Homo sapiens: one gene and its partners. The protein of the gene in region 6 interacts with the protein of the main gene of each other region in a biochemical or structural test. Each region holds a gene or a part of one and is shown on either strand. Other genes may lie near its edges. The genes, in order: EIF5B, SQSTM1, CLNS1A, LRRC59, ANP32B, CSNK2A1 and MAP1A.

Evidence for each region.
Region 1: of the proteins of CSNK2A1 (region 6) and EIF5B, one has a biochemical effect on the other in vitro, tested with the Homo sapiens proteins (one large-scale study listed by BioGRID and IntAct).
Region 2: of the proteins of CSNK2A1 (region 6) and SQSTM1, one has a biochemical effect on the other in vitro, tested with the Homo sapiens proteins (2 studies listed by BioGRID).
Region 3: of the proteins of CSNK2A1 (region 6) and CLNS1A, one has a biochemical effect on the other in vitro, tested with the Homo sapiens proteins (one large-scale study listed by BioGRID and IntAct).
Region 4: of the proteins of CSNK2A1 (region 6) and LRRC59, one has a biochemical effect on the other in vitro, tested with the Homo sapiens proteins (one large-scale study listed by BioGRID and IntAct).
Region 5: of the proteins of CSNK2A1 (region 6) and ANP32B, one has a biochemical effect on the other in vitro, tested with the Homo sapiens proteins (one large-scale study listed by BioGRID and IntAct).
Region 7: of the proteins of CSNK2A1 (region 6) and MAP1A, one has a biochemical effect on the other in vitro, tested with the Homo sapiens proteins (one study listed by BioGRID).

What each region holds. Positions count from the first base shown.
Region 1 is NC_000002.12:99,399,108-99,401,826, reverse strand, and holds the end of EIF5B (eukaryotic translation initiation factor 5B), read right to left. Parts: intron 2,521-2,719; coding exon 2,413-2,520; 3' UTR 587-2,412; downstream 1-586. Other genes in the region: DNA repair protein REV1, read left to right, coding at 475-586. UniProt on the Homo sapiens protein: Plays a role in translation initiation.
Region 2 is NC_000005.10:179,823,905-179,827,404, reverse strand, and holds part of SQSTM1 (sequestosome-1), read right to left. Parts: coding exon 3,318-3,500; intron 3,224-3,317; coding exon 3,082-3,223; intron 2,260-3,081; coding exon 2,179-2,259; intron 1-2,178. UniProt on the Homo sapiens protein: Molecular adapter required for selective macroautophagy (aggrephagy) by acting as a bridge between polyubiquitinated proteins and autophagosomes.
Region 3 is NC_000011.10:77,624,295-77,627,794, forward strand, and holds part of CLNS1A (methylosome subunit pICln), read right to left. Parts: intron 1,525-3,500; coding exon 1,423-1,524; intron 777-1,422; coding exon 669-776; intron 1-668. UniProt on the Homo sapiens protein: Involved in both the assembly of spliceosomal snRNPs and the methylation of Sm proteins.
Region 4 is NC_000017.11:50,391,024-50,394,523, forward strand, and holds part of LRRC59 (leucine-rich repeat-containing protein 59), read right to left. Parts: intron 1,875-3,500; coding exon 1,716-1,874; intron 1,480-1,715; coding exon 1,375-1,479; intron 1-1,374.
Region 5 is NC_000009.12:98,000,341-98,003,840, reverse strand, and holds part of ANP32B (acidic leucine-rich nuclear phosphoprotein 32 family member B), read right to left. Parts: intron 1-3,500. UniProt on the Homo sapiens protein: Multifunctional protein that is involved in the regulation of many processes including cell proliferation, apoptosis, cell cycle progression or transcription.
Region 6 is NC_000020.11:537,291-540,790, forward strand, and holds part of CSNK2A1 (casein kinase II subunit alpha), read right to left. Parts: intron 1-3,500. UniProt on the Homo sapiens protein: Catalytic subunit of a constitutively active serine/threonine-protein kinase complex that phosphorylates a large number of substrates containing acidic residues C-terminal to the phosphorylated serine or threonine.
Region 7 is NC_000015.10:43,520,608-43,524,107, reverse strand, and holds part of MAP1A (microtubule-associated protein 1A), read right to left. Parts: intron 3,468-3,500; coding exon of another isoform or gene 3,385-3,467; intron 3,137-3,384; coding exon of another isoform or gene 2,996-3,136; intron 2,785-2,995; coding exon of another isoform or gene 2,635-2,784; coding exon 1-2,634. UniProt on the Homo sapiens protein: Structural protein involved in the filamentous cross-bridging between microtubules and other skeletal elements.

The DNA of each region.
Region 1 (2,719 bases), on a different chromosome or scaffold from region 6:
GCATGGCTCCAGCCTGATCGACAGCTTGTCTCAAAACAAAATAAAAAAAAATTTGAGTGTTCTAGGATTTTATTTTTTTTGAGATGGAGTCTCACTCTGTCGCCCAGGCTGGAGTGCAGTGGCAGGATCTTGGCTTACTGCAGCCTCTGCCTCCTGGGTTCCAGTGACTCTCCTGCCTCAGCCTCCCGGGTAGCTGGGATTATAGGCATGTGCCACCATGCCCACCTAATTTTTCTATTTTTTGTAGAGACGGGGTTTTACCATGTTGGCCAGGCTGGTCTCAAACTCCTGACCTCAGGTGATCCGCCCTCCTCGGCCTCCCAAAGTGCTGGGATTACAGGCATGAGCCACACCGCACCTGGCCAGGACTTTTTTTTTTTTTTGCCAAAGTCAATTTTTATATATAAAAAGGAATAATTAGTCTTAAGGACCTTTCCTAATTCCTAATGACATTTCTTCTCTCCCCACCTTTAGGCTGATGCAGCAATCGGTGGAATCGGTTTGGAATATGGCATTTGACTTTATTCTTGACAATGTCCAGGTGGTTTTACAACAAACTTATGGAAGCACATTAAAAGTTACATAAATATTACCAGAGAGCCTGATGCTCTCTGATAGCTGTGCCATAAGTGCTTGTGAGGTATTTGCAAAGTGCATGATAGTAATGCTCGGAGTTTTTATAATTTTAAATTTCTTTTAAAGCAAGTGTTTTGTACATTTCTTTTCAAAAAGTGCCAAATTTGTCAGTATTGCATGTAAATAATTGTGTTAATTATTTTACTGTAGCATAGATTCTATTTACAAAATGTTTGTTTATAAAGTTTTATGGATTTTTACAGTGAAGTGTTTACAGTTGTTTAATAAAGAACTGTATGTATATTTTGTACAGGCTCCTTTTTGTGAATCCTTAAAAACTCAACTCTAGGAAGCAACTACTGTTTATTATACTAAAAGGCTGAAAAACCTCCAGGCCAGACTGCTAAGCTCTGAAATTCCTGAGAGGTCTCAGACCGGGATTCTACTTGTTCCAAGAAAGGGTAAAGCTTCTAAACCATCTTATTCTTGTCTCCAAGCATGAACACAGGAGCATGTTAAGAAAATCTTTACTACTTCTTCCATGCGGAGAAATCTACATATTTTGAATTAGAAACACCCTCACACCCACTTGAAGATTTTTTTCCTGGGAACATTATGTCCCGTAGATCAGAGGTGGTGTTGTCTTTTTGCTTCTACTGGCCATTGAGAAACTTTGATGATAAAAAAGAACGGTATAGATTTTTCAAACGTATATAAAATATTTTTATGTTATATGTTATGCCATAACTTTAAAATAAAAATAGTTTAAAATTCTATGCTAGTGGATATTTGGAACTTTTTCCTCAAACAAACACCCCACACTGACTTCAGCAAAACCCTAAAACTAGCTACAGATTACTACTACGAATGAATCATTAAGTTTTGTGTCTGCAACAATTTAGAAGCACTAAGCCCAAATATCAGGAAATGTGTGTATGATGGAATTTTCTAGGACAAAACAGATCAAGATTAAAACAGATCAAGATTAATGTATAAAAATCTCTACTAAAACAGATCAAGATTAAAACAGATCAAGATTAATGTATAAAAATCTCTACTGTTACCAGGTGCTGGCATACAAGGTAGTGTGATGATAGTTTAGTTTGTAAGATAATTCTTGTCCTAGGAGGACAACTTGTGGGAGAGAAGCTACACTAACATGGAAGCCTAACAGAGCTTGCTTACTGGTGGATGTCTGTTTTCTTTATTGGTAGTTTGGTTTAGAATTGTGATGATTACAATGGACTCGTGACTACACAAGCAGTAAAAAGCAGCCAGCTGTGCTTTTACACCATGGTTTCACACAAAGCAGCTAAAGAAATATCAGAATGCCTAATTTTCTATTTTATAAAAGCCCTAAAGGCATATGGCAGAAGAATGCTGGAAAAATCACTGTGGGAAGAATATGCATAAATAAAGAAGTATTTCTTACGTCAAAAAAGTCCCAAGAATCACAAAATCTGCAGAAGCTTGGTTAATCAAATACTGCAGTACTGATTTAATCAGTATAAAATCGAAAGAGCTTTAGATCTGTAATAAAAATCCAAATTTGGGGAAGGGCAAACTTTAAAACAGCAGCCAAGTAGAGAAGGGTTGGGGAAGGGAGAGGTGAGTGAACAGGCACATTGGAACTGTGGGGACATGTAACTGACCACTGTCAAACCAGTGTAAGTTTCTTGGTTTCTCATGGAAAACATTTTATACACCTATTTTTCTTCCTTCCATACTTAAGTCCATCAGTGTCCAAATACGTCTGTTCCATTTTTTGTCTGATTTTTGTTGGGATATTACAACACAGTATTGCATTTACTCCAGTTCCTGCTCCATGTGAAAAAATTAGATGATTTCAAATACTTTCTTCAGCTCCACAATAAGCTGCCAGTCACTCTTCTGCATTTCATCTCTGAACCAGTCTTTGAGTGCATCAATGGACTGCCGGCTGATCTGCAATGCCCGAGGCACAAACAGGGTAAACAGAACATAACAAACGTGCCAAAGAAAGCTGTGGCCCCAGATGCCCGCTCTCACTGTACTAAAAAGCTTAAGCAGAAATAAAAAACAGGGCTTGCCTGCCTAAGGGAGTAGAATTCCAAAATCACATCTGGTTTGCATGTCAGGCACGAGGGGACCTAAAAGTCCTAGC
Region 2 (3,500 bases), on a different chromosome or scaffold from region 6:
GCTGAGACAGGAGAATGGCGTGAACCCAGGAGCCAAGATCGTGCCACTGCACTCCAGCCTGGGCAACAGAGCGAGACTCCGTCTCAGAAAAAAAAAGACATCTGAGCATCTGCAAGATTATTCCTGTCTGTGCCAAGTGGGGCGTCCAGTTCAGTTCCGAGATGCTGCACCAGCACAGGTGGGTCTTGAGACAGTGTGACCCCAAGCACCTGGGCAGCCTCCCAGACAAATCCCAGGCCCCACCAACACTCACTCACCAGGATCAAAAAAGGTAAGGTCTGGGGATCTGCACTGTTTTAAAAGTCTCTACCTGAACCTAGACTTGGTTTTGTGACTTCCCGGGATGTCTCCTTTGTTCTTTGAGTGAAGGACTCTTGTTCATATCTCCAAATTCACCGGCAATCTCTCAGACCTTTACTACGTCCAGAGTGAGTGGCAGGATTTAGGCACAGCCGATCTCTCAATCATGACCTCGGTGTTCCACTGTTTACCCTCCTTGGAAAGCATTAAGAATACTGATTCTTGGCCGGGCTCGGTGGCTCACACCTGTAATCCCAGCACTTTGGGAGGCCGAGGCAGGTGTCGAGATCAGCCTGGCCAACACAGTGAAACCCCGTCTCTACTAAAAATACAAAAAATAGCTAGGCGTTGTGGTGGGCACCTATAATCCCAGCTACTTGGGAGGCTGAGGCAGGAGAATCGCTTGAACCTGGAAGGCAGAGGTTGCAGTGAGCCGAGATCACACCACTGCACTCCAGCCTAGGCGACAAGGGTGAAAGTCTGTCTCAAAGAAAAAAAAAAAAAAACAGACTAGCGATTCTTCTTTCCTATTCTCTGACTTCACCTCTAAACTCTAGTACAGAAGCCATGCGTGTTTGGGCTGTTTAGTTCAGAAGCAATGCCAAGATGTCACTGCCGCCTCAAAGTGGAATGAGCAAGGCCAGGCGCAGTGGTTCACACCTGTAATCCCAGCACTTTGGGAGGCCAAGACGGGTGGATCACCTGAGGTCAGAAGTTCAAGACCAGCCTGGCCAACGTGGCGAAACCCCGTCTCTACTAAAAAAATACAAAACTTAGCTGGGCGTGGTGGCGGGTACCTGTAATCCCACTTACCCAGGAGGCTGAAGCAGGAGAATCACTTGAACCCAGGAGGGGGAGGTTGCAGTGAGCAGAGATGGCACCACTGCACTCCAGCCTCCGTGACAGAGCAAGACTCCATCTCAAAAAAAAAAAAAAATCGGAATGAGCAAAGTTGGAGCAGATGGCAGTCACGCCCTGTAGCCACAGGAGGCAGCAGGCATGGTTCGGACGCCCCTCCTAGCAGCATTCTTTCAGACACTGAACACAACCTTTGGACAGGCTGGGTGGACACAGCCTGCCACTGCAGTCACAAAAACAAGCTCACTCGTCTAGCGAGAGATGCAGGTGTCCCAGCGATCCATCTGCCATCACAGATCCACCGTCATCTTGAACTAGAAGTTGGCTTCATTCACTGATTCTCACTGCCGCATGCCTAACCCTGCAGCACCCACCCGAGACCCTTAGCCAGACGCAACAGGCACTTTCTAAAGCCCAGCAGGGAGGGGTCTCAGAGCCTGAGCTCATGCCTGGGGTCAGGTGGCACCTTCACCCACCCCACAGACCCACTGTGCAACCTGAGGCACCAGAACCGGGTGTCACCCAGAGCACCTGCCTCCACCTTCTCCCCGCTCTGAGGCAGGCCCAGCACTCAGAAGCACCAGAAAGGTTTGGGGGTTGTAAACTAAAAGAAGGAAAAGATAAATAGCATGTCAACTAACTACTACCCAGGTCCTCAAAAGTCCAAATCCCAAGGCCTGGCTTAGGGGAAATTGCAGACTATTGTTCATCCAAAGGAGGGCAGTCAGAGGTGACAGGCAAGACCTGCAACCACAGTCTGGTCACCCTCCCTCACTGGGATTATCCCAACCAAATGCCAGCTGATTCGACTTCACTCCATGTAGAAAGCTCGAGAATTTTGTCAGGGAATTCAACCTTGAGTTGCCCGTGGTCCAGCACTACTAAAGGTTGATTTGAGGCAACAAATCCTCACCAGTGTCAAGGGCATGTCAATTACCCATTCCTTTGCAGTATTCCAGGTGAAAGTTACATAAAGTGCAGGCTGAGTTAGGGAAGCACTGGGCAAGGAGGTGCACTCACCCAGAGGGCTAAGGGCAGCTGCCACACTCTCCCCAACGTTCTTCAGGAAATTCACACTCGGATCCTCCGATGGACCAGAAGCTTTGATTTTTACAAAGATAAGATAAAGATATCTTTAATGCCTTGGATACCTGTCACAGTCCTGTCACCTTCTTGCCAAGGTCCCTGTGTTCCCGGGTGACCTTTAACCCGGACATCTTGTCCAGTGACCCACTCAGCATCCCCCTCTCCTTCCTCCCACTCTGCACCCCCTGGCCCTGCACAGAGAGCATCTCCACTCTCCCGTGCCATCTCCCCCTCATCTGTGACCCTGGTGCTCAGCAACCCCACAGAGGCTCAGGCTCAGTACACTGTGAATATTGATCACCTCCTTGAGTAAATATGTTATTTACTCAAAGTCAAGCAAACATCCCCATCTTTGTCCCAAAGGGTGAGGTGATTCACAGGACACAGTAACATTAATAAAATCAGAATCCAAAAATCTAGACTACAAAGCTAACGGTAAGTCTTTCACTTATAACTATGTTTCAAAGGACTTCAGCAACTTTGGCTCTGATCTTCCTGACAACCATCACAAAAGAGAACAAAGTGCATCAAAGACCCCTGGGCTGGAAGGGCCTCCCTGCCTGCACCTCAGGGTACCTTGAGAGGGCAGCCTCCTGAGGTAGGAAGGGCTGTGCAGGTAAATTTGTGGCCTCAGGCACTTAGGCACCTCAGTTTCCCCATTTGGGAAATGGAGAGAATACACCCCACTTTGCAGGGTTCTTGTGTGATTGTAGGGCACCAGGAAGGTGGGGGGTATCCTGAATTCTTGCCTTGCACACACGCTTTGCACAAGGGCCCTGCACACAGGCTGCCTGACTACTGTCACCAATCAGAAGCAGGTTCCAACACAAGCCTCACCTGATTCTGCCGTGGGGCCAGGGCGGGCCTCCCCTGCACGAGGAGGACGTGGGCTCCAGTTTCCTGGTGGACCCATTTCCCATCCTGGCCACCCGAAGTGTCCGTGTTTCACCTTCCGGAGCCAGCGGCTGTGCGAGAAGCCCTGGGGGAGGAATTAGCAGAGCGGCAGGCAGTGAGCGGGTCAAGGTTCCTGCCACCCTGAGCCCACCCCAGGCCTGCACAGAGGGCCTGCTCACCTCAGACAGGTGCCCGAAGGGGCTGGGGAATGCGAGCTTGGTGTGCCCCCGGTGCAAGCCCTTTCCCTCGCAGACGCTACACAAGTCGTAGTCTGGGCAGACGCTGCACTTGTAGCGGGTTCCTACCACAGGCCCATTGCAGCCATCGCAGATCACATTGGGGTGCACCATGTTGCGGGGCGC
Region 3 (3,500 bases), on a different chromosome or scaffold from region 6:
AAATGATCCAGGTTCTCAAGGTGTAGAGAGAGAAGCTTGTTCTCTGGGGGCAGCTGCCTCAGCTTAAAAGACTTTCCTGACCATCCACTTCCCTATCTACCATTTTCTTTCCTCCCATATGCTCTACTTACCCATTCTTCCCCATAACAATCTCTATTTCTTACACTCAAAAATTTGTCTGTTGCAAAGGGCTTTGGCATAAAGTGTTCTACCGTGTCATTCTATTTTAATAATAATCTTACCAGCCAGGCACAGTGGCTCACACCTGTAATCCCAGCACTTTGGGAGGCCGAGGCAGGCGGATCACCTGAGGTCGGGAGTTCAAGACCAGCCTGACCAACATGGAGAAACCCCATCTCTACTAAAAATACAAAATTAGCCTGGCGTGGTGGCGCATGCCTGTAATCCCAGCTACTTGGAAGGCTGAGGCAGGAGAATCGCTTGAACCTAGGAGGCAGAGGTTGCAGTGAGCCGAGACCACGCCATTGCACTCCAGCCTGGGCAACAAAAGCGAAAACTCCATCTCAAAAATAATAATAATAATTTTACCATACTGCATACTTTACAGTCATATAAAGAACTATAATCCTCTACCCTTAATACAAATAAATGCTTAAAATGAAACACTAAACAAACAAAAAACCCACTTTAAAATCCATTTCACTAACCATGTGCTTCCACATCATATTCTTCTCCATCGTAGTCATCTGAATCCTCATCCTCAGGATCTGGATGCAAGGCCTGGCATTCGCACATTGCAGTGAACATTGCCTCCACTGAACAAGGAAATTAAACTGTAACCAATCTTTTTTTGTAATAAAAGTAACCATCAGTGCAAATAAATTTAATGGGTACACAAAACGCCACAGTATTTACAAAATCTGCCAAATTGTAAGATCAATCTTGAAAGCGGTTGAAGCAAAAGACAAGTCATAAAATAATAAGAGTTCATTATGAGAGATCATTGCAATCTCTTCATGGCTCGTGGGATTTTCCAAGAAAAAAGGGTCAGAGTCCTGGTAAGACTGCTGGCATCAGGGTGAAGGGTGAAGACTGCTCTCAGCTGATAGGGCTCTTTCCAGCCATCCTGAGATCTTCCACTTTAAAACTGCCATAACTCCTCTGCCATCCAGCAGGTGAGATTAAGTCAACAGCACCAATCAGTAAAACTAACCAGAGTCCACTCACAAAATATACCCAGATGACAGAGTGTCTACAATATTCTCACTACATTCACAACCTTTGATATTAATAGGTATTTGGTCCTTAATGATATTACCAATGCTAAAATAAAGAAAAAGCAATAGAATGGAGGTAATGGTGGTAAAGGTGAGAGGTGTGTGTGTGTGTGTATGTGTGTGTGTGTCAATTGGGAATGCTTGGTATGTAAAAGGGGAAGAATCAATACTGTAGAACACTCACACGCTGATTTATCACTAGGCACAAATCTAAATTCAGTAATAGGTTCAACATCATCATCACTGTCTTCCTCTTCTTCATCAGCAACAGGTTCTTTTGATTCTTCTAGAAAATAAAATACCCTTTTAATGTCATTATTTGACTTTAAAAAAATGAAGCATATTGAAAATCTGAATATTGCAATTCAATTTTAATTTCCAATTATGGTTGACAAATTTATTTCCAATTATGGTTGAAAAATTCTGATTATACAGTGAGCATCCTAGAAAAGCCTTGCCTCGATCTCCTGACCTCGAGATCCACGCACCTTGGCCTCCCAAAGTGCTCCCTCCGCGCCTCACCGGGAATGAATTTTTAAGGTTATTTTTAAGGTAATCTAATCTCATCAACAATGAGCTAAGGGTCAACTTTTTTTTCTGAGACTGGGACTTGTTTTGTTGCCCAGACTGGACACCCTTGCCCTCTCAGGCCCAAGCGATCCTCCCACCTCAGCCTACTAAGCAGCTGGGACTACAGGCACTTGCCACCACACCCTGCTAATTTTTGTTTTTTTGAGATGGGGTCTTACGATGTTGCCCAGGCTGGTCTGAAACTCCTGGGCTCAAGTGATCCTCCTGTCTTGGCCATTCAAAATGCTGGGATTGTGGCTGGGCACGGTGGCTCACGCCTGTAATCCCAGCACTTTGGGAGGCCGAGGTGGGCGGATCACGAGGTCAGGAGTTTGAGTCCAGCCTGGCCAATATGGTGAAACCCCGTCTCTACTAAAAATACAAAAATTAGCAAGGCGTGGTGGCAGGCGCCTATAATCCCAGCTACTCAGGAGGTTGAGGCAGGAGAATCATTTGAACCTGGGAGGTGGAGGTTGCAGTGAGCCAAGATCACAGCATCGCACTCCAGCCTAGGTGACAGGGTGAGACTCCATCACAAAAAAAAAAAATGCTGGGGTTACAGATGTGAGCCACTATGCCCGGTCCTGATGGTCATTTTTTTTTTTTTGAGACGGAGTCTTGCTCTGTCGCCCAGGCTGGACTGCAGTGGTGCCATCTCGGCTCACTGCAAGCTCTGCCTCTTGGGTTCACCCCATTCTCCTGCCTCAGCCTCCTGAGTAGCTGGGACTACAGGCGCCCGCCACCACACCTGGCTAATTTTTTTGTATTTTTTTTAGTAAAGACGGGGTTTCACCGTGTTAGCCAGAATGGTCTTGATCTCCTGACCTCGTGATCCGCCCGCCTCAGCCTCCCAAAGTGCTGGGATTACAGGTGTGAGCCACCGCGCCCAGCCCTGATGGTCATTTTTAAAGAGACTTACAGAGGTATGCCAAAGAGAAAAAAAAAAAACTTAGAGCTTAGAGAATCAGAATGCAAGGAACAAAGGCTGGGAAAATATGATTCAAGCACATGTAATTTATGAGAGGAGTTTAAGATAAAAAGAACTAAAGGGCCAAGCGAGGTGGCTAACGCCTGTAATCCCAGCCCTTTGGGAGGCTGAGGTGGGTGGATCATGAGGTCAGGAGATGGAGAGCATCCTGGCCAACACAGTGAAACCCCAACTCTACTAAAATACAAAAAAAAAAAAATTAGCGGGGCGTGGTGGCGGGAGCCTGTAGTCCCAGCTACTCGGGAGGCTGAGGCAGAAGAATCGCTTGAACCCAGGAGGCAGAGGTTGCAGTGAGTCAAGATCGCATCACTGCACTCCAGCCTGGCGACAGAGCAAGACTCCATCTCAAAAAAAAAGAAAAAAAAAAAAGGAACTGGAGAATTAGTGAAATAAATGTGACCCAGAAAGATACTAATTTCTAGTAAGATAGGAAATCCTGCATATCTTACTAAGAAAGGATTAATCATAATCACATCAATTACAACCAATCATATAGATTCTGTATGATTATAGAGCACATATTTAAAACACACACCCTAAAACCTACTGAACTGCTTTTTCCTAGTTTAGGACTCAGAGCATTTGCATTTTAAACAAGCTTCCCATGTATTTCTAATGTGTATCCATTAGTCTTGAGTTTGGGAACAAGAGACTAATATACTCCCTTAACTTTTTGGATGAAATTCAGGCTCAGAGAAATGCAA
Region 4 (3,500 bases), on a different chromosome or scaffold from region 6:
ATGAAAGGTGTGTATATGCTGAGGGTTTCTTGTGTCAGAGAAATGAAAGTAATGCCGACTCCTCAGGGCTCTGAGGATTGTGAGATGGTGCATGGAAAGCATCCAGGACAAGGAAAGAGTAATCAATGGTAGCTACTGTCAGCTTGCAGAACAGACATCACTCCTACAGCACCTAGTTTTCAAAAGAGGATTTCACTGATCACTTATACTGTTCTCATCTAAGGGAAAACTCTTGTCTTAGCTACTTGGTTAACTTTGTGCTTGATTTGTTGTAATAAGAGATGATACAGATGACAAGATTATATAAGAAGCCCTGAGCTAATGATAAGAAGTATCTTACTCTCTTACTCTCTACTTGAGACAGCAGAGACTCATCATTCACCCATGAATTCTAGTATTTAAAGTTAAGTCTTTTTTGTTCAACATGCACCTTAAACATAGCCAAGTTAGTCATCTGGTGCTCAGCTGAAGCAGCAGCAATCTGTTCCAAAGCTGGAGGGAAAAAGTGACTATAGTTGGAGTTATTAAGAGATAGGTGTAATGCTGTTCTTAATAGGTAGGGTACGGCACCTTCCAGGCTACTGACCACAGACAATAGTTGTCTTGCATGCTGCTTTCAGTTCCTCACTCCTATGTCAGATGACTCAACTGTAATCAAATACCAGGTCTGCCCAGGACGTGCCTGCTTACAGCTGTAACACCTTTATCATCGCTTTTATTATCAACATTCCTACGACTGTGCCTCAGAAAGGCCACAGCCCCTAACCCCCGGTACTATTAAAACAACTGTCCACACAGTGTCATGTTGCATCACGCAAGGTCCCGGCTCCTTAAGAGAGGAAGTACTGCAGTAGAGAAGGCAGTCTTGTTCTGCGACTTGCGAACTAAGTGCAGGCCAGGCATGGTGGCTCACGCCTATAATCCCAGCACTTTGGAAGGCCAAGGTGGGCGAATCATTTGAGGTCGGGAGTTGGAGACCAGCCTGGCCAACGTGGCGAAACACCATCTCCACTAAAAAATACAAAAATTAGCTGAGCATGGTAGCAGGCGTCTGTAATCTCAGCTACTCGGGAGGCTGAGGCAGGAGAATCGCTTGAACCTGGGAGGCGGAGGTTGGAGTGGGCCGAGATTGTGCCACTTGCACTCCAACCTGGGCAACAGAGCAACTCTGTCTCAAAACAAATAAAAAACAAAAAGATAAAGTAAATGCAGAAACAAAGGTCTCTGTTTGACAGGCTCATAGTGGACATATTTCACTCGGACCTGAATGCTTAACTCCACACAAAGCTCCAGGTGCCCTAGGAGGGAAAAACAGGAGGAGGAGAAATCCCAGGGAGTGTATAAGGAGCCACTGGGAGGGAGCTTGGTGCTTACCTTGTTTGCACACTGCTTACACTGCTTCTCATCCAAGCAGTCACCTGCCACCTTGGCCAGGACAGGATCCAGGGGGTTATCCTTCAGGTCCAACCACTTCAGGTTCTAAAGAGATGGGCGATGGGCAAAGAGGCTCATTAAGCCCGAGTTCACATACATAGTCCCTCAGGGTGAAACAAAATGAGCAGGAAGAATGCCCCTCTGTGTTCCACATATAGGGAGCGCCATCTGAGGCAGGACCAACAAGGGGGTATTTCTGTCAGCCTTTCTCAGGGCCGTGCTCCAGAGTCCCTGAGTTCTCTGCCACCCTGGCCATGAAACACTGGTTCATGAATTGTTACCTTGAGCTGAGCAAAGCTGACAGGCAAGGTGACCAGCTTGTTGTTGAGGAGATCCAGGTGCTGGAGGTTGACCAGACGGCCAAAGTCTGCTGGCAGCTGCTGCAGCTTGTTCTTACTCAGGTCTAGCTTCACCAGGTGTGTGAGGCCACAGAAATCCGACTAGGATCCAAAGAGAGAACCTAAGCTAGGCTTGTCCAACACACGAGCCACGACAGCTTTAAATGTGGCCCAATACAAATTTGTAACCTTTCTTAAAACATTACGAGATTTTTTTTCCTTTTTCAGCTCATCAGTGTATTTCATGTGTAGCCCAAGACAACTCTTCTTCTTCCAATGTGGCCCAGGGAAGCCACAAGATTGGAAACTCCTCATCTAAGCCTTGGGCTCACACACTTCGGTGTAACAGTCTGGAAGCCCTCAAGTCAGAGGTACCCCATGTAAAAATCCTGGCTCTACTGTTAGCAGCCGTTCTTCCTCAAATGAAAATGCAGAGAACACCTACCACACCTGGTGATAATTACCAAGATATGTATGGAAAAGGGCTTAGCACAAAGTAGGCACAAAACACTATTCCTTCACCCTCAGTTCTTGCTCCAGCCTACCCTCCACACTGCTCCTGGAGAGGTGTGGTTACCCATTCTGTCCTTCCACAGCACCCTATGCTCACCATTCATAGGATCTGTCAAAACAGCGTGCTCGTTCATTTTCTTAAAAAGATCAGGCACTCCTGGAGTACTCAGTCTGATTCTTGTTATTTGCAGCACCTAGCACAGTACTTAACACAGGTGCTCAACAGACATTCTGTGAATAACTAACTGAACGGGCTGGGGTCCATCCTACCCAAGTCCTGGCTCTTTCTCAACACAGGTCAAAACATCCCCCTGACATTAAACCTTTGCTAAGCACCCATCTGAAAGCGATGGTACAACCTCAGCTAATGAGGCACTATTCATGCTCTCTAGGGACTTGGAAATGCCAGTGGATCTGAAATGCAGAGTGAAATGGAAGTTGTCAGTACAGACAACAGAACAAGCTCAGATCGAAAAGTGCACTTGGCTGAATGACCATCTGGCAAAGTGTACAGAAGGAGTGCGGCTGCAAGGAATTGCTAACCTGCTTTTATTTTTAATTTTTTAGAGGCGGGATCTTGCTATGTTGTCCAGGCTGCTCTCAAACTCCTGGGCTAAGTGATTCTCCCACCTCAGCCTCCTGAGTTACTGGGATTATAGGCATGAACCACAGCTCCCAACATATTCTTCTTTTATTCAACACAAAATACTTTCTGGAAGAAGTGAGATCTCGATGCTTTTTGAATGTTAGAAACAGTTTTTGATGAGCTGTGACAAGGTACTGTGGACGATGAGCAAGGCCTAGGAGAATACTGAGAGGTGAGTGGACTAATAATCCAATGAGGACATTGCCAACTTCTGAATTCGACCTCTGAGCCACAGCCAGGGCCAAATAGGAAGTCACCCTGGAGTACAGCAAGGAGTGGCACGGCTAGAGTGATGGGTGGAAGTGGCAATAGCACACTTAGGCCTGACGGTGCAGGAGCACTACTATGTCAGAGAGGCTGAGGGGCTGAATGAATCCACTGTCTACACAGGTGGAGTGGAAGGAAAACTAGCAGACGTTGTGCAAGAAAAATAAAAAGGATTTGATCATGGATTGAATGTGCTGACCACATTGAGCAAATCTCAACTAATTCAAGTCCTTTGGGAGAATAATGATAAGGTAGCCCATAAAATCACCTTCTTTCTTGCTCCCCATCAAAAGATGCACAAG
Region 5 (3,500 bases), on a different chromosome or scaffold from region 6:
GGTTCTGAATCAAGAGAAAAACTTCGGTATTCTCTAAGAAGATAGTACTAAAAACACCCAAACAAACTTTAAGAGGACCTCCACATAAAATAATTTCTAAAAAAATAAATGTTGATGCTTAACAGGTTTTGCTGCTTTATTAGGAAAGCTGTTACAACACTCACAAGGACCTGAGAAGAAATGCAGACAAAACAAAACCTTATTTTCAGAACTCAAGGTATCTATGTAGTTCTGAGGAGATATAAAATGGTGTGAAAATCTGCCTCAAGGCTCTAGAGCAGGGGTTGGGAACCGGTGGTCCAGTGGCCAATTCTGGCCCACCACTTGTTTTTGTAAAATAAGCTCCATTGGAACACAGTCACACTCATTTATTTATGTATGGCTCCTTATGTACTAAAATGGCCAAGCAGACTAGTTGTGACAGAGACTATATAAACAGGCTACAAAGCCAAATGAACCTACTATTTGGCCCTTAGAGAAAAGGGCTACTGACCCCTGCACATGAAGAACTTCATCTTCTTGATGAAGAAAGAGGCTCCCACACTTGTTTTATTCATGCAGGGAACACACAGCAGGGTTACAGCAACAGGAAAACGTTGCACCCCTCAAAACACAAATTGTACAATGATCCAAGAGTCTGTGGATCAAACAATGTGCTTATATAGTCAGTTCCTTGACGTTTTAAGAAAGCTGTCCCCAGCCCTTCTGGTCATAGAGCTGCTTTTGTATCATGTAATTTTCAGATTAGCTTCCCTTCCAGTCAGGCCCTGACTTCCAGAAGCCCAGGTATGACTTCTTGCCAAAGAGGAAAAAAATGCTGCAATGCCACCCCAGATGGCTAGCTAGCATACTGGCTTTCTCTTCACAAAGGCTGACTCGATGCCAGCTAGAGTCAGCTTTAGGCAGCTTTTCCAAAAAGGTTCACTCTAAAAATTCTCCACTTAAAGGAATGAGCCATTTATATTTCAGAATTATTTCCTAGAAATAGGTGCACAAAAACACATACAACCTCTGATATTTATCTAATGCTTTTTAATACCAAAAGCCCTTTCTCTATCTAGTTTCATTGACTCTTCCAGTACACAGGGCCTCCAAGGCTCTCCTGTTTCTGAAACTGTACAATTATGTGAGATTTTTGGCTACTTCCTGGCAAAGCACCCCTTCTCAAACAATTTGGACATGCCAATCAGTAGTTTGAAAAATGAAATGAAAGCAAGAAAACAACAAAAATCCCAAATAACTGTAGTACTCTGGAACTGCTGAAAGTAGTAAAATTGTGCTTTAAGGCCCAATAGGCACAAAATACACTACACACAGATTATTCAGGATCCCAATGTAATGTGTAAATACTGATTAAAAAAAATTACAACTCTACCATACCAGAAATTTGATGTAAGCTAATAGGCTAGCCATAATAAACATTAAACATTTTATTAACAATAATTTTGCTTGCCTTCTTAGAATTTAGAAGGGCTTTGGGGGATGGTTTGGATGGCCCAGGTCTCTTAAAAAAGGTGTCCAAGGAAGTTTGAATTGATGCCTTCTTTGTCTCTCGATTAATGTCCCTGTAGCAAGCAGAGGCATTCACAATCATTGCATTGACTATAAGAACTGGGCTCAAAGTAGACGGTGTTCAAAATGTATGTGGTTAATGAGGATGAGGATGGTGTTTTTCCCCACTGAAGAATACTGCCAGAAGTCAAAATGGACCCAACTCTTCCCCCCTTCACCTTCTCCTACAGATTTACTTAATTCCAAGTTAGAACTTCAGGAGACCAACCTAGCACCGCCAGGAATCTGAGTGCCAAGTATAGCAGAATGGCGGGACCCCAGGCTTTTCGAAATAGCTCTGGTGTGTAGCCCTGTGGCTCTGCCACAGGGTGTGTGACTCTGGACAAGGGATTCAGCCTCACCCAAGCCTTAGCTTCCTCAATATAAAACAAGGGCCATGCTATTTCTATCCACTTTGTATCGAAGGTTTTTTTTTTTACAATTACTAATAAAACATGCATAAAGCACCCAGTAAATGTATGGGTATAGCAGATCCTCTAAAAATGGTGAACACAACGAAGATTACTTTTTATCCTTCACTATCCTGGGGGACTGAGACTTTCACAGCCACCAGAGGGTCCTCTCATACATTACTGACCAGATCAGGAAAAAACTCAAGCAAACAACTCCCACACAGTATTTGCTTCTGCTCCATTGCTGTGTGCTACAACACTGAAAAAGGCTTCTGATAATCAGAGGATTCAGGCTGCCACGAGAACTAGGTAATGGCCAGTCATCAACTGGCCAACAGTGAAAAGGTACTGCCTGCTACTCTGTTCTTTAAAAATTAAAAGAGAAGGCCAGGCATGGTGGCTCACGCCTGTAATCCCAGCGCTTTGGGAGGCTGAGGCAGGCGGATCACGAGCTCAGGAGATCGAGACCATCCTGGCAAACACAGTGAAACCCCATCTCTACTAAAAATACAAAAAACTTAGCCAGGCATGGTGGCAGGTGCCTGTAGTCCCAGCTACTTGGGAGGCTGAGGCAGGAGAATGGCGTGAACCCAGAAGGCGGAGCTTGCAATGAGCCGAGATGGCGCCACTGCACTCCAGCCTGGGTGACAGAGCGAGACTCCGTCTAAAAAAAAAAAAAAAAAATTAAACCAGAAAAAAAAAGGGGGGTGGCGGGGAGAAGGGTTTCTTATGCTCACAACCTAGGATTAGTATGTCTGTCACTAACCAATAAACAAAGGCTTAGTGTAGCCCATGTGAACGGGAAAGCATCAGCAGTTAAAATTTGGTGCTCCTGTTGGAATTCCCAGCTTAAGGAAATTTGGGCATGAAATAAATTTACAGGTGGAAAGAGAAGAAGAGGTCCCAAGGGCTATGGAAAACACAGCAGACTTCGAATTTTTTTTTTTTTTTTTTTGAGATGGAGTCTTGTTCTGTCACCCAGGCTGGAGTGCAGAGGCATGATCTCAGCTCACTGCAACCTTCGCCTCCTGGGTTCAAGTGATTCTCCTGCCTCAGCCTCCCAAGTAGCTGGAATTATAGGCGCCTGCCACCACGCCTGGGTACTTTTTTGTATTTTTAGTAGAGATGGGGTTTCACGTTGGCCAGGCTGGTCTCAAACTCCTGACCTCAAGTGATCTGCCCGCCTCGGCCTCCCAAAGTGCTGGGATTACAGGCGTGAACCACCGTGCCCAGCCTAGACTTAGATTTGAATCCCTACTCTGCCATTTCTCCTGAGCAATTATCTACATTCTCTAAACTCAGCTTCCTCATCTCTAAAAAGAGGACAGTCATTCTCTCTTCTCTGGGTTACTTAAGGATACAATGGGCAAATGTTCATGTCCTTGGATGCAGCAAAAGTCAGTAAATGTCGGCTTAAATACTGGAAATGGGGGTTGGTTTGAAGGAAACGAATAAAACTAGTAAGAGCCCGAGTATCTGGGTATACCTGTAATAGGAAAAAGGGCAAAATGCATGGAGCACTGGTGAGGCATCACA
Region 6 (3,500 bases):
CTATGCAAGAAAACATTATCACCACGAATGTAAAGAAGCTTGCCGACCATAGCAACTGTTGCTACGTAGGGTTTTTTAATGTCTAAGACTGAAAGACAGAATTTGTAGAAACCAGTTAAAATGCCACTCTTAGCAGTATCTTGTGATACTGTGAATGCTTTCACCTTAAACTTTTTAAAAGACTCAATCTTTGACTTCTACATGTGAAAAAAAAAAAGTACATCTGGGAGCACTCAACGTAAGAAAACTACCAATTGTCTATAACCCAATGAAAATACATCCTTTGTTACAATGACAGCAGCTACTTTTCCTTAATAATCCTAGAGGAATTTCTTCATTTGAAAAGCTGGCTGGCCTAGATTTCTCTATAAACTAAATGACATGCTACTTTCGAAATTATCCATTTCAGAAGTTCAAAGAAATTCAGGTATAAGAACACATTAATACTCTCATGAAACAAACCTTATCCAGGTTACCCACGAATTGTGACAGATCAAAACCCAGTTTCTCATTTCAAATCAAGTATCACATTATTTATTACCTTAAAATACTAAGCCCTTACCTAATTCAATGGCAAATCATATTGGTTTTCAGTTTCTGAACTTGTACAAATCATACTGTAATATTTATGCAAAAGTTGTCATATAGTTGAATATTATAGACAGTTAACATCTTTTTTTTTTTTTTTTGAGACGGAGTCTTGCTCTGTCCCCCAGGCTGGAGTGCAGTGGCGTGATCTTGACTCACTGCAACCAACCTCCGTCTCCCAGGTTCAAGTGATTCTCAGCCTCCTGAGTAGCTGGGACCACAGGCACGCACCTCCACACTCAGCTAATTTTAGTAGAGATGGGGTTTTACCATGTTGGCCAGGCTGGTCTTGTCCTGACCTCAAGTCATCTGCCCACCTCGGCCTCTCAAAGAACTGGGATTACAGGTGTGAGCCACCATGCCCGGCCAACAGTAGAAAAGGGTACTCAGGGAACATAGTTCAAAAGTCATGATTCTCTATTGGCTGGACCAGGATTCTAGACTAGCTCTAGGGCTGAGATATCTTAGTAGACCAGTTAACATTCATGTGGCCCAATTTCCCTTACTCTAAACCCAAAGTCAAACATAACCTCTAAAGTCTTTCATACCCTGAAATGCTAATCTTGTAATCATCTTTCTATTCAGGTAATAACTCAAAAGAAATGGTCTCACTTCCTTCATCCTCTGACTAAAGTTTAGTTAGTCCATATTTTATGAATCCAATTAATAGGATACTTTAAAGAACAAAAAGAAAAGACTTTTCTTAAAAGCTAGAAACTCCATTCTGTAGTGATGATTCCCAGATCTGACTCTTAAACTCAACAACCTCAACAGACAATGACAGGGAGAAAAGATCTTACAAGTTTGAGCTGAGCTGGGGTGGGGTGGGAGGTGTGAGAGAACAGAGAGACAGTTACAAATTCACAAAAATGTATCACCCATTTCCATCTCCTCTAAAAAAATATGAAATAAGCCTTAAAAGGCTGTCATAGAAACCCATTATTAAGCCAATAAAAACTAATGAAGAAATTATGTCATTTATCCAAGATATGGAAGAACCACCTATTTACAGAAATCCTACCAATGTCCTAGACCTTCAGAAACTACATCTCACTAAGCTGACCATCAAGCCCCTTCAAACTGCATCTAAGGACAATAATAATATTCAAACATCAAGAAACAGGCACAGGTTCCACTCAACACCATTATTCCGTGGAGTCTTCCAGGACTAAATTGTTTTATAGAATCTTTGCTATCTTTGTTCTCTAGAAAATGATATCCCAAAGACTCTAAAATAAAACCAGCAAAACCCCTGTATTTGTTTTCCATTGTGTCATAACAAATTATCACAAACAAAACAACACAAATGGATTATCTTACAGAAGTCAGTGGGCTTGACTGGGTCTCACAAGGGCTAAATGAGGGTATCCAGTGGGTGGGTTCCCTGCTGGAAACTCTGGGGAAAATTTGCTTCCACATTCATTCAAGCTATTGGCTGAATTTAGTTCCTTGCAGCTGTAGGACTGAGTTCCCACTTCCTTGCTGGTTGTCAGCTGGGACTGGCCTTTCCTACTAGAGGCTGCCTGCATTCCCCGTCTCACACTTTCAATCTGGTCCCCTCCAGTAACGGCAGGCTGAGTCCTTCTCATGCTTCAAATTTGACTTCCCCTTCTGCCTCATCTCTGACACCAGCCAGAAAAAGTTCTCTGCTTTTAAGTGCTTATGTGAGTAGAATAAACCCACCCAGAAAATCCAAGATAATCTACCTAAGATCCTTAACTTTAATTAAATCTACTTAACATATTCATGTTCCAGGGTTTATAGTATGGAAATCGTAGGGGAGCCATTCTGCTTACCGCAGTCTGCCTTCTGGTTTCCAAGGATTCATCTCTCTCTCAAATGCAAAATACATCCATCCCATCCCAAGGTCCCAAAGGTTTCCCATCTAAAGCTTATCATTTCAGAAGTCCCAAATCTCATTCATCTATTCAGGTGTGGATGAGGTTCTGGGGACAAAACAGTAAGTCCAATTCCTGGGGCACAATTCCTAAAGAAACAAGTTCTCTACTCCCAACATACCACTGTGAGACATGTAGAGAATAACAGTTAGACATTCCAGTTCAAATGGGCAAAATGTAAAAGAAAACAGAGCCTCCGGTCCAAAGCAGTTTCAAAATCTAGGGAATCTCCATTCCATTTCAAAGCCTGGGAAAAATCCTCTCCAGCTTTTAGCTCCACCCCTCTGGGCTCTCCTATCTCCGTCTGAGTCACCCTGATTCTTTTATGAAAAGCAACACATTCACATGTGAGTAGTTTTATCAGCCTGCTTCCTATCAGTAGAATTTGGGGGGTCCAACAGCCCTATTACTTTCTGTCTCTTTCAATCCAAACTAGAACTGTTTATGTTGGCATAAAATTCTCAAGAACCTAATGGGCTGTGGAAGTATTCCACATGGGTCCACTCCATTAAAGTTCACATTCACAAATAAACCAGGCTGCACATTTAATACTTTGCTTGGAAATCTCAGCTAAATATACAAGTTCATCACTTGCAAATTTGGCTTTCCATATAACCATAGGATACAATTCTGCTAAACTTAGTTGCTACTATGTAACAAGGATCCCCTTTCTGCCAGTTTCCAATAAGAAAGACCTCACTTCTGTCTGGGCCCTCACTAGCAGAGTCATTAACATCCATATTGCTACTAAAAGTATGTCCTAGGCCTTTTCTTTTTTGACAGGGTCTCACTCTGCCACCCAGGCTGGAGTGCAGTGGTGCCATTACCGCTCACTGCAGCCTTGACTTCCTGGGCTCAAGCGATCCTCCTGTGTTCCAGGCCTTTTCTATCATGCCCCTCAAAACAATTCTAACCTTTATCTACTGCCACTTTCATTTTTAGGTAATAGTACCCCACTCCTGGTACCAAAATCTATACTAGTGTTCTACTGCTGCCATAACAAATTACCACAAA
Region 7 (3,500 bases), on a different chromosome or scaffold from region 6:
GGAGGAAGGGATGCTTGTGACTGTGTCAAGCAGCAGGGAGCTCTTGCCTGTCTCCTCTGTCTGGGGAGCTGTAAGTGAGGCCACAGATTGGTCCTCAGCCACTGATGTGGCAAAGGAAGAAAGTTTGTCACACTCAGTGATTGAAGTGGCCGAGGACACATGTTCCTCTTCAGCCAAAGGGGCAGCCACTATGTTAGTGGGGTAGGTGAGTTCAGTCTCTGGCGTTCCATAGACTTTGCCAGAGGTAGCAGGAACAGCACTATCGGCAGGTTGGCTGGCTTCGAATGGGCCAGCACCTTCAGGCCCGGGCAGGTCATATGTACTTGTATGAAATCTGGGTGGAGCTGGGCGCTCCTCCGGCTCATCATGGATCTCCTCATCTGAGATGGTCTGCTCAGTCTCTGAGTAGCCAGGGATTGTCTCATCCTGGATGTAAGAGACATGCTCAGTGGCTCCTGCAGGTGTGGTCAGGCTGCTTAGGAATAACGAGGTCTCCTTCTCAGGGGCCTTGCCCTGGAGTCCCAATTCCCGACCCCCAAAAGCCTCCCGGCTCCTTGGAGTTACCTTCAAGGGTTCCTGCATATGTTTTTGGTAAAAACCCTCAGCTTTTGTCGCGTCCTCTTCCTCCTCATCTGAAGGGTGTACCTCCTCCATTTCTTCTAACTCAGCCTTTTCTATCACATCCTCCTTTACTTCAGGTTCACTTTCCTCTCTGGCTTCTGTTCTGTCTGGGAGCCTCTCTGCTTCCCTCTGCTTCTTTTCCTCCCAGGTATCTTTCTCTTCCTCTGTTTCAGCCCCAGAGTCTAGGCCTCTGTCCTTGCTGCCTTGTTCCTCAGGGACCTCTGGGACAAGCTCTTTCTCCTTCATCACATGTTCTTCTTGTCCCAGCCCTGGAACAGAGGGTGGTGTTCCCTGGATAGCTGTACTTGGGGGTCCCTCCTCTGCAGTGTCTAGAGGGAATGGCTTATCTCCTAGTCCTGTGTCCCTTTGTTCAGCCAGCAAAGCCCTCTCCTCACGCTTCATCTCCTCAAAGTCCTGTGTGAGGTCCTCTGGTGAGGATAGGACCAGCTCCCTGTGCCCACTGATGGTTGGGAGTGGTACAGTTCCCTTCTGGGCTGGGGGTGTCTGGGGCTCAGAAGACAGCTCCTTCTCCCCACGGATAGCACGGCTCCTGTCTATTTTGACTCTTCCAGGGACCTTGGCTTTATAGAGGGTCTTACGTACCTCAGGAGTAAAGGGCTTTAGGTCTGGCTTGGAAATCTTCTTGAGCTCAGGTTTGGTATCTTTCCTCTTCTCCTCCTTCTTGGCATCCTTCTTCTCCTCCTTCCTTCCTTCATCCTTCTTGAGCTCTTTCCTCTCCTTTTTGATCTCTTTTTTCTCCTTGTCTTTTTTTTCTTCCAGCTTTGATATCTTTTCTTTAAGGTGCTTTTTCCCTACCTTGTCTTTGATCAGCTTTCGCTTCTCTGCCTTCAGTGCCTCACTTGACTCTGTCTTCACCCTCTCAGGCTTGGCAGGCTTCTCTGGGGGCTTCTCAGATGACTCTTTTGCCTTCTTCTCTGTCTTGGCTAACTCCTTGGCCAGCTCTGAACGTGCCTCCTTGGCTCCCTCTTCTACCACCTCCTCCCGTTTGGCCAACTTGCTCACGGCCGTCTTGGTAGTGGCTTTGAGGCTCTCCTTGCTATCAGCCCGCTGTTTGATTTTGCTGGGCTTGAGGTTGGTAGGCACAGCCCCAGAAGCCAGGTCCTTCTGCGTGGCCACAGGGTAACGCAGGAAGTCCAGATGCCGAAGCTTTTCTAGGCCCTCCAAGATCTTGTTTTGGGGAGCATTTCCTGGAAAAAGCACACGCACAATCTTCTCAGTGGGATTGGCTGGTAGCCAGACCACCAGAGCAGTGATAGAGGTAAGGTAGGGCACGGAGATCTCAGCCTCCTTCCCATTGGGCAGCACGATGCCTGTCTTGGCTTTACTATTGCCTGCCCACTTTTGCATGAGGAACTGCATCTCCTTGCTGTCCTTGACAGGGTTGAGGACATACATGTCCAGCCGGCCCACACCCATTTTGTGGAAGAGGGTCAGTGGCTCAATGGTATTGCTGACCACACGATATAGAGGCTCAGCCTGGATGCCCAGGCGGTTTAAGTGCTGCAGAGTGAGGCAGGCCTCCTCAATGCTACGCTTGGCTTTCCGGGAGGCATCAGGAAGCCGCAGCTTCTCAGGCACGTTGAAAAAGACAACTCCAAGCTCAGGAGAGATAAGGTTCTTCACCCAGTCGCTGTAACTGCTAGAGCCCTGGGACTGCTCCTCCTCTAGCTCTGCCACTTTGCGCTGCAGTAGTCCATTGATGCCTGGCAGGTTGTCTGCCCCAATGTGTGTGAGTAGCACCGAGTCAATGCGGTCCAAGTGCCGTACCAGCTTCCAAAAACAGGACTTGCGATCAGAGCCACCATCCACCAGGATGTTGAAACCATTGACAGCAAAGAGGGCAGAGTCCCCACGACCACCTGGGAAGATGTAGCAACAAGGCTTGGAGAGCTTGAGGAAGCCCCCTGAGGTGGGGGGCTCTAGTAGGTCAAATGGGGATGGCACGTCCACAGTCTCAGAGACATACTCGGAGAACTCAGCCACGCCGTCCATGGTGGGCAGAGTGGGCTCAGGGTTTAGCCGGAGGTGCAGGGTCTCTTGGGAACTGGATAATCCCAGGTGGCTCCAATCACCTTCCCCTAAGCAGGACACGGTAAGGAAGGCCTGTATCCCAGGGTCTCTATTGCTGAGCAATTGGGAAATCTAGAAGAATAGGAGATAGAAACCTGATCAGGTCACTAGAGTTGTTTTGGTCTGACTTAGATTCAGTACCCTAATCTTCACCTCTTTCCAAGGTGGACTCTTACCTTTCTGCCAGGGCCCCCCATGGTCATGCAATATGAGACTTTCCCTTAGATCCCTCCCACAGCTCTAGTGCTACCCTTTCTCCCAGACACTCTGGCATGGAACTTACCTCGGGGTTGTGAAGGACCTGGGCAAAGTTTTCATATGAGTAGGTGCCACTCTGTAGGATGAGGTCTCCCCCAGGCTCTAAACTTTGCCCACTCAAGATTAGTAGTTTATAAGCTGATGAGCTGCTAAGAAGATGATGAACCTGGAATGGAAGAAGGGGAGTGGTCACAGATATAGGAAATCCAGGGAAAGGCAATGAATGGCCCCTCAGTACCTCAAGAACATGCTCCCAACTTATGTCCCTCATAACACCTCCAGAGTGGGCTGGAGACAATACGTCAGCTTAGATGGCAGAGAGAGGAATTCTTGGCCTAATAGTGGTAGCACTGGCAAGGGTGGGTATAGCACTTGCACCAGGCCTGTTTGGCAAGGCACAGGCCCTGGCCTTACCTCAGAGCTGATGCTGTCTGCACTGGGATTTACCAGGATGATGGTCTCTAGGATCTCACTCTGGTGGCAAAGGGTCCTCTGGCCTGAGGGAGAGATGTAGGAATTTATATTGAGAA